2 separate regions of the Homo sapiens genome follow, and region 1 is reported to be linked to region 2. The links are microRNA targets in miRTarBase. Many come from high-throughput screens and were not tested one by one. Region 2 holds a microRNA gene; the other region holds the end of a gene's coding sequence.

The links. The annotated mature microRNA hsa-miR-675-3p reads CUGUAUGCCCUCACCGCUCA and lies in region 2 at 1,928-1,947, shown strand. An mRNA with a match to its seed (bases 2 to 7 or 8) in the 3' UTR can be bound and repressed. Matches are read on the target gene's strand: a 7mer-m8 pairs with bases 2 to 8, a 7mer-A1 pairs with bases 2 to 7 and ends in A, and an 8mer does both.
Region 1: the mRNA of ZNF268 is a reported target of hsa-miR-675-3p. Seed matches in the 3' UTR shown: 7mer-m8 at 1,004-1,010.

What each region holds. Positions count from the first base shown.
Region 1 is chr12:133,204,028-133,207,114 of GRCh38, reverse strand. It overlaps ZNF268 (zinc finger protein 268), which reads right to left. Exons shown (of 6, transcript NM_003415.3): 6 at 1-3,087. The coding sequence ends at 2,585. Among named protein-coding and RNA genes, the nearest start is that of ZNF268, 24 kb to the right of the region's middle.
Region 2 is chr11:1,995,538-1,998,714 of GRCh38, reverse strand. MIR675 (microRNA 675) reads left to right here and starts at 1,884; the gene lies at 1,884-1,956. H19 (H19 imprinted maternally expressed transcript) reads left to right here and starts at 873. Exons shown (of 5, transcript NR_002196.3): 1 at 873-2,197; 2 at 2,294-2,428; 3 at 2,524-2,636; 4 at 2,717-2,839; 5 at 2,921-3,177. It also overlaps a transcript of MRPL23 not described here. RefSeq lists enhancers at 1-513, 514-1,361.

The sequences.
Region 1 (3,087 bases), not on the chromosome of region 2:
AATTTCTGTTTTGTAAAATTTTCATTTCATTAAATAATAAGTCCTAATCAAGTATTATTCTTTCCCACAGTATGTGAGTGCTGTCCTCAATACTGTCAACACTTCTGGCTTCTACCAGGCAAGGCTGCATGTAGATTTGCATCTGAAAAAACAACAAACTAAAATCTAACCCTAGGTAGTAGTAAACTGAATATAAACTTTCTCTTATGAATTTATTCTGTCTTCTTTGGTACATCAATAATAATATACACCTTTACAGTATTTCCCAGATTGGGGGATACACTTTAGCAAGTATCTGCGATTATTTGTTTATGTAAGATGTCCCTTCCCTTCTGTGAATCATCATTCTTCACCCCAAGTATCTTGAGATTGGATTCTGTATAAGCAGAATACAACAGTTAGGCATTCAGGTATCATTAAATTCCTCCGCTTCAAGGATGAAAATTTCTTTGGGTATCTAATAGAGTACAAAGCAGAAGGTGTTTCAGAAATATTTGCAGTATTGAATCCGCATATTCCTCCAAGATAGCCCTAATCTAACTGGCAGGGTCCCACTCTTCCCAGATTAATGCCCACTCACATAACAAACCTGATGAGGTAGTGAAGAAAACTAACTTTGTGAGTAAGCAACTGGCAGAGTTTTTCACCACTGTGACTCTATAGCTACATGTAACTAAGTAGTATCACTGACACATAATCTTAAATTGAAGTTTTAAGATCATTATTCTCCATGTTATACATGGGTATCAAAAGCATTCCCCTCTTGACCACTCCAGAATTCTGTTTAAAATTTTTCAATGACAACTTATCCATTTCCCCAAAGCCTCAGTGAGCACATGATGCCAACAATTCATTTCATGACTTCATAGCATGGGCCAAGTTTCTTGCTTAAAAGACTTCCATCCTGTCTTGGGAAACAACCATTTCCAAATATCCACATATCCTTGCAAGTTTCTGCCTACTCCTCTACCACCCATTTCTGAAGCCATCTGATTTAGTAAGCTGTATGCAAAAGATACACAATGGCTAATGCAATCAAACAAGGAATGTATTAAAAGCACACCCAATAGCTCAAAATAAAAGACAAGTGAACAAAGTTAAGAAAATGACAGTAACAAAAGCTGTTCTGGGAACCTCTATTGAAATAGCTACTTATTACATCAACATGCTACCACAGAACAAAAGCTCATGTTGCTTTTCTGAACTTGAAAAACCCATTAACAATGTACAGTTCTGAGCCTCAGCTGACCATAGTGCTCATGCCAAGTCCTGAGCAGGGCATCTTGAATGGTGGTTCCCTCATGACTACATACACCGTTAGGGAATGTTTCGTTAAGAGGAAATCAAGATGTTCTAACCTGTGAAGGTAGAATAGATTCCAGGCTACACAAACACATGAAGTGTGCCTTATATTGATTACTAAAGAGGTTGCTGCCAAGACTGCTTCCAAAGGGCAGAAGATAGCCCTAAAAAATGTTTGCAGTGTGGAAATGCATTTTTAGTAAGTCATATTCTAGTAACAAGTTGCATTTGGTAAGACACAAAGAAACAATGTTGGTATGCAGAGTAGAAATCTCTGGAAGATGATATTGTCATATCAGAGATATTGTCAGTATCAGAGATACTGAAATCTCTGGAAGATGATTTTTGTCTCACATATGGCATTCGCAAGTAAAATGCCAAACTGCAAAATTCATATTATGTAGTACACATAGGAAGATATCTAAATATCCCTGTAGGCTCTGGGATGTTATTTCTTATTCTTAACCTCCTTACTAGATTCACTTGTACAATGAAATAATCTGTATCTTATTATTTATAATTGAGAATTTTCTCAAACCTTTTCCTGAAATTTTGGAACACCTGGAATAAAATTTCTTAAAATGATTCCTAAAAGAAATAATTCTTCAAAATTAATATTAAGATATAATAACAGGTTGGTTTTTTTTTTTTTTTTTTTTTTTTTTTTTAGAATGAAGCTTCTAAGGTGAGGTTAACAGTCCAGCTGTGGTTTATTTGGTACATTCATAAGATGTTCACTCCTATATATATTTTTTCCCTAGGGGTTTCTCATTTCTAGATTTACACTTTCCCTTATAGCATGGTCCCTCCAAGGTATATGCTTCCGATACATAAAATGTTTGTAATTTTGTTAATTCTGCCATTCATTAGCTCAATAATTTCTCTCATTAAAATTCTGTAAACTATGAATTTCAAAGAAGTCTATTCTATATTCATCTGGTTCATGAAGTTTCCTCTTTGTGAATCTTATTTTAGTAAAATGACTTTACAACGTTTAACATGGTTCCTCACCTGTATGAACTTTTTAAAAAAAGGTATGACTTGCTGCTAAAAATTTTCAGAGTGGTTACTAAATTCAGTTTTCCTGTGTATTGTCTACTATCTTTTTGCATGTAAAGAACAGCTTTCTGTGGATGCCTTTCCATATGCTGTGCATTCATAAAGTTTCTATTCAGTATGAGTTTTCTGGAAGATGACAAGATGATTCCACTTACAGAGTTTCTCTTTATATATGATTGTTTCTATCTCTTGTGAATCCACTTTTCAGAGTTTCGTAAAATTATCAATGTTTGTCATCTACATGAGTTCTCTGATGCATAATGAGCTGTGACTTCCAACAAAAGGCTTTCCCACATTCAGTGCACTTACAAGGCTTCTCTCCTGTATGTGTTCTCTGATGTGCACTGAGAATTGATTTTTGAGAGAAGGTTTTCCCACATTCATTGCACCCATAGGGTTTCTCTCCTGAATGAGTTCTTTGATGTACAATGAGTTGAGAATTCCTAATGAAGGCTTTTCCACACTCACTGCATTCATATGGTTTCTCTCTTGTGTGCATTCTCTGGTGTACAAGAAGGCGTAATTTCCCACTGAAGGATTTCTCACATTGACTGCATTTATAAGGGTTGACCCCTGCATGAGTTCGCTCATGTACAATGAGTAGTGATTTCCAAATGAAGGCTTTCCCACATTCATTACATTCATATGGTTTTTCACCTGAATGAGTTCTCATGTGTATAATTAGGTATGACTTGCTGCTAAAAGCTTTCCCACATTCACTGCACC
Region 2 (3,177 bases):
CGGCTTTGACACTCGAGACTTGAGGTGAACCCCAGGGACTGCAGGGCCCCAACAACCCTCACCAAAGGCCAAGGTGGTGACCGACGGACCCACAGCGGGGTGGCTGGGGGAGTCGAAACTCGCCAGTCTCCACTCCACTCCCAACCGTGGTGCCCCACGCGGGCCTGGGAGAGTCTGTGAGGCCGCCCACCGCTTGTCAGTAGAGTGCGCCCGCGAGCCGTAAGCACAGCCCGGCAACATGCGGTCTTCAGACAGGAAAGTGGCCGCGAATGGGACCGGGGTGCCCAGCGGCTGTGGGGACTCTGTCCTGCGGAAACCGCGGTGACCAGCACAAGCTCGGTCAACTGGATGGGAATCGGCCTGGGGGGCTGGCACCGCGCCCACCAGGGGGTTTGCGGCACTTCCCTCTGCCCCTCAGCACCCCACCCCTACTCTCCAGGAACGTGAGGTCTGAGCCGTGATGGTGGCAGGAAGGGGCCCTCTGTGCCATCCGAGTCCCCAGGGACCCGCAGCTGGCCCCCAGCCATGTGCAAAGTATGTGCAGGGCGCTGGCAGGCAGGGAGCAGCAGGCATGGTGTCCCCTGAGGGGAGACAGTGGTCTGGGAGGGAGAAGTCCTGGACCCTGAGGGAGGTGATGGGGCAATGCTCAGCCCTGTCTCCGGATGCCAAAGGAGGGGTGCGGGGAGGCCGTCTTTGGAGAATTCCAGGATGGGTGCTGGGTGAGAGAGACGTGTGCTGGAACTGTCCAGGGCGGAGGTGGGCCCTGCGGGGGCCCTCGGGAGGGCCCTGCTCTGATTGGCCGGCAGGGCAGGGGCGGGAATTCTGGGCGGGGCCACCCCAGTTAGAAAAAGCCCGGGCTAGGACCGAGGAGCAGGGTGAGGGAGGGGGTGGGATGGGTGGGGGGTAACGGGGGAAACTGGGGAAGTGGGGAACCGAGGGGCAACCAGGGGAAGATGGGGTGCTGGAGGAGAGCTTGTGGGAGCCAAGGAGCACCTTGGACATCTGGAGTCTGGCAGGAGTGATGACGGGTGGAGGGGCTAGCTCGAGGCAGGGCTGGTGGGGCCTGAGGCCAGTGAGGAGTGTGGAGTAGGCGCCCAGGCATCGTGCAGACAGGGCGACATCAGCTGGGGACGATGGGCCTGAGCTAGGGCTGGAAAGAAGGGGGAGCCAGGCATTCATCCCGGTCACTTTTGGTTACAGGACGTGGCAGCTGGTTGGACGAGGGGAGCTGGTGGGCAGGGTTTGATCCCAGGGCCTGGGCAACGGAGGTGTAGCTGGCAGCAGCGGGCAGGTGAGGACCCCATCTGCCGGGCAGGTGAGTCCCTTCCCTCCCCAGGCCTCGCTTCCCCAGCCTTCTGAAAGAAGGAGGTTTAGGGGATCGAGGGCTGGCGGGGAGAAGCAGACACCCTCCCAGCAGAGGGGCAGGATGGGGGCAGGAGAGTTAGCAAAGGTGACATCTTCTCGGGGGGAGCCGAGACTGCGCAAGGCTGGGGGGTTATGGGCCCGTTCCAGGCAGAAAGAGCAAGAGGGCAGGGAGGGAGCACAGGGGTGGCCAGCGTAGGGTCCAGCACGTGGGGTGGTACCCCAGGCCTGGGTCAGACAGGGACATGGCAGGGGACACAGGACAGAGGGGTCCCCAGCTGCCACCTCACCCACCGCAATTCATTTAGTAGCAGGCACAGGGGCAGCTCCGGCACGGCTTTCTCAGGCCTATGCCGGAGCCTCGAGGGCTGGAGAGCGGGAAGACAGGCAGTGCTCGGGGAGTTGCAGCAGGACGTCACCAGGAGGGCGAAGCGGCCACGGGAGGGGGGCCCCGGGACATTGCGCAGCAAGGAGGCTGCAGGGGCTCGGCCTGCGGGCGCCGGTCCCACGAGGCACTGCGGCCCAGGGTCTGGTGCGGAGAGGGCCCACAGTGGACTTGGTGACGCTGTATGCCCTCACCGCTCAGCCCCTGGGGCTGGCTTGGCAGACAGTACAGCATCCAGGGGAGTCAAGGGCATGGGGCGAGACCAGACTAGGCGAGGCGGGCGGGGCGGAGTGAATGAGCTCTCAGGAGGGAGGATGGTGCAGGCAGGGGTGAGGAGCGCAGCGGGCGGCGAGCGGGAGGCACTGGCCTCCAGAGCCCGTGGCCAAGGCGGGCCTCGCGGGCGGCGACGGAGCCGGGATCGGTGCCTCAGCGTTCGGGCTGGAGACGAGGGTGAGTTTTTCCCCCTCTGCCACCCTCAGCCCCCACCCGCCCCTCCCCACACAACCAACACGTTCTCCCCACACGACTCTCTCGTTCTCCCCACAGCCAGGTCTCCAGCTGGGGTGGACGTGCCCACCAGCTGCCGAAGGCCAAGACGCCAGGTCCGGTGGACGTGACAAGCAGGACATGACATGGTCCGGTGTGACGGCGAGGACAGAGGAGGCGCGTCCGGCCTTCCTGGTGAGCGTGTCTGCCCTCCCTGCGTCAGGACGCGGCCCTGCCCAGACCGCCCCGCCGGGCCACCATCTCACTGCCCCGACCTCTGTCTTCTACAGAACACCTTAGGCTGGTGGGGCTGCGGCAAGAAGCGGGTCTGTTTCTTTACTTCCTCCACGGAGTCGGCACACTATGGCTGCCCTCTGGGCTCCCAGAACCCACAACATGAAAGGTGAGGGGCTTCCTGCCACACTTGGGGTGGGGGGCACGCGAGAGGAGCTGAGTGGGACCTCACTCCTTCCCCATCCACAGAAATGGTGCTACCCAGCTCAAGCCTGGGCCTTTGAATCCGGACACAAAACCCTCTAGCTTGGAAATGAATATGCTGCACTTTACAACCACTGCACTACCTGACTCAGGAATCGGCTCTGGAAGGTGAGCACCAGCGCTCCTTCCGGAAGCCTCCAGGCCCCCGAGCACCCTGCCCCCATCCCACCCACGTGTCGCTATCTCTAGGTGAAGCTAGAGGAACCAGACCTCATCAGCCCAACATCAAAGACACCATCGGAACAGCAGCGCCCGCAGCACCCACCCCGCACCGGCGACTCCATCTTCATGGCCACCCCCTGCGGCGGACGGTTGACCACCAGCCACCACATCATCCCAGAGCTGAGCTCCTCCAGCGGGATGACGCCGTCCCCACCACCTCCCTCTTCTTCTTTTTCATCCTTCTGTCTCTTTGTTTCTGAGCTTTCCTGTCTTTCCTTTTTTCT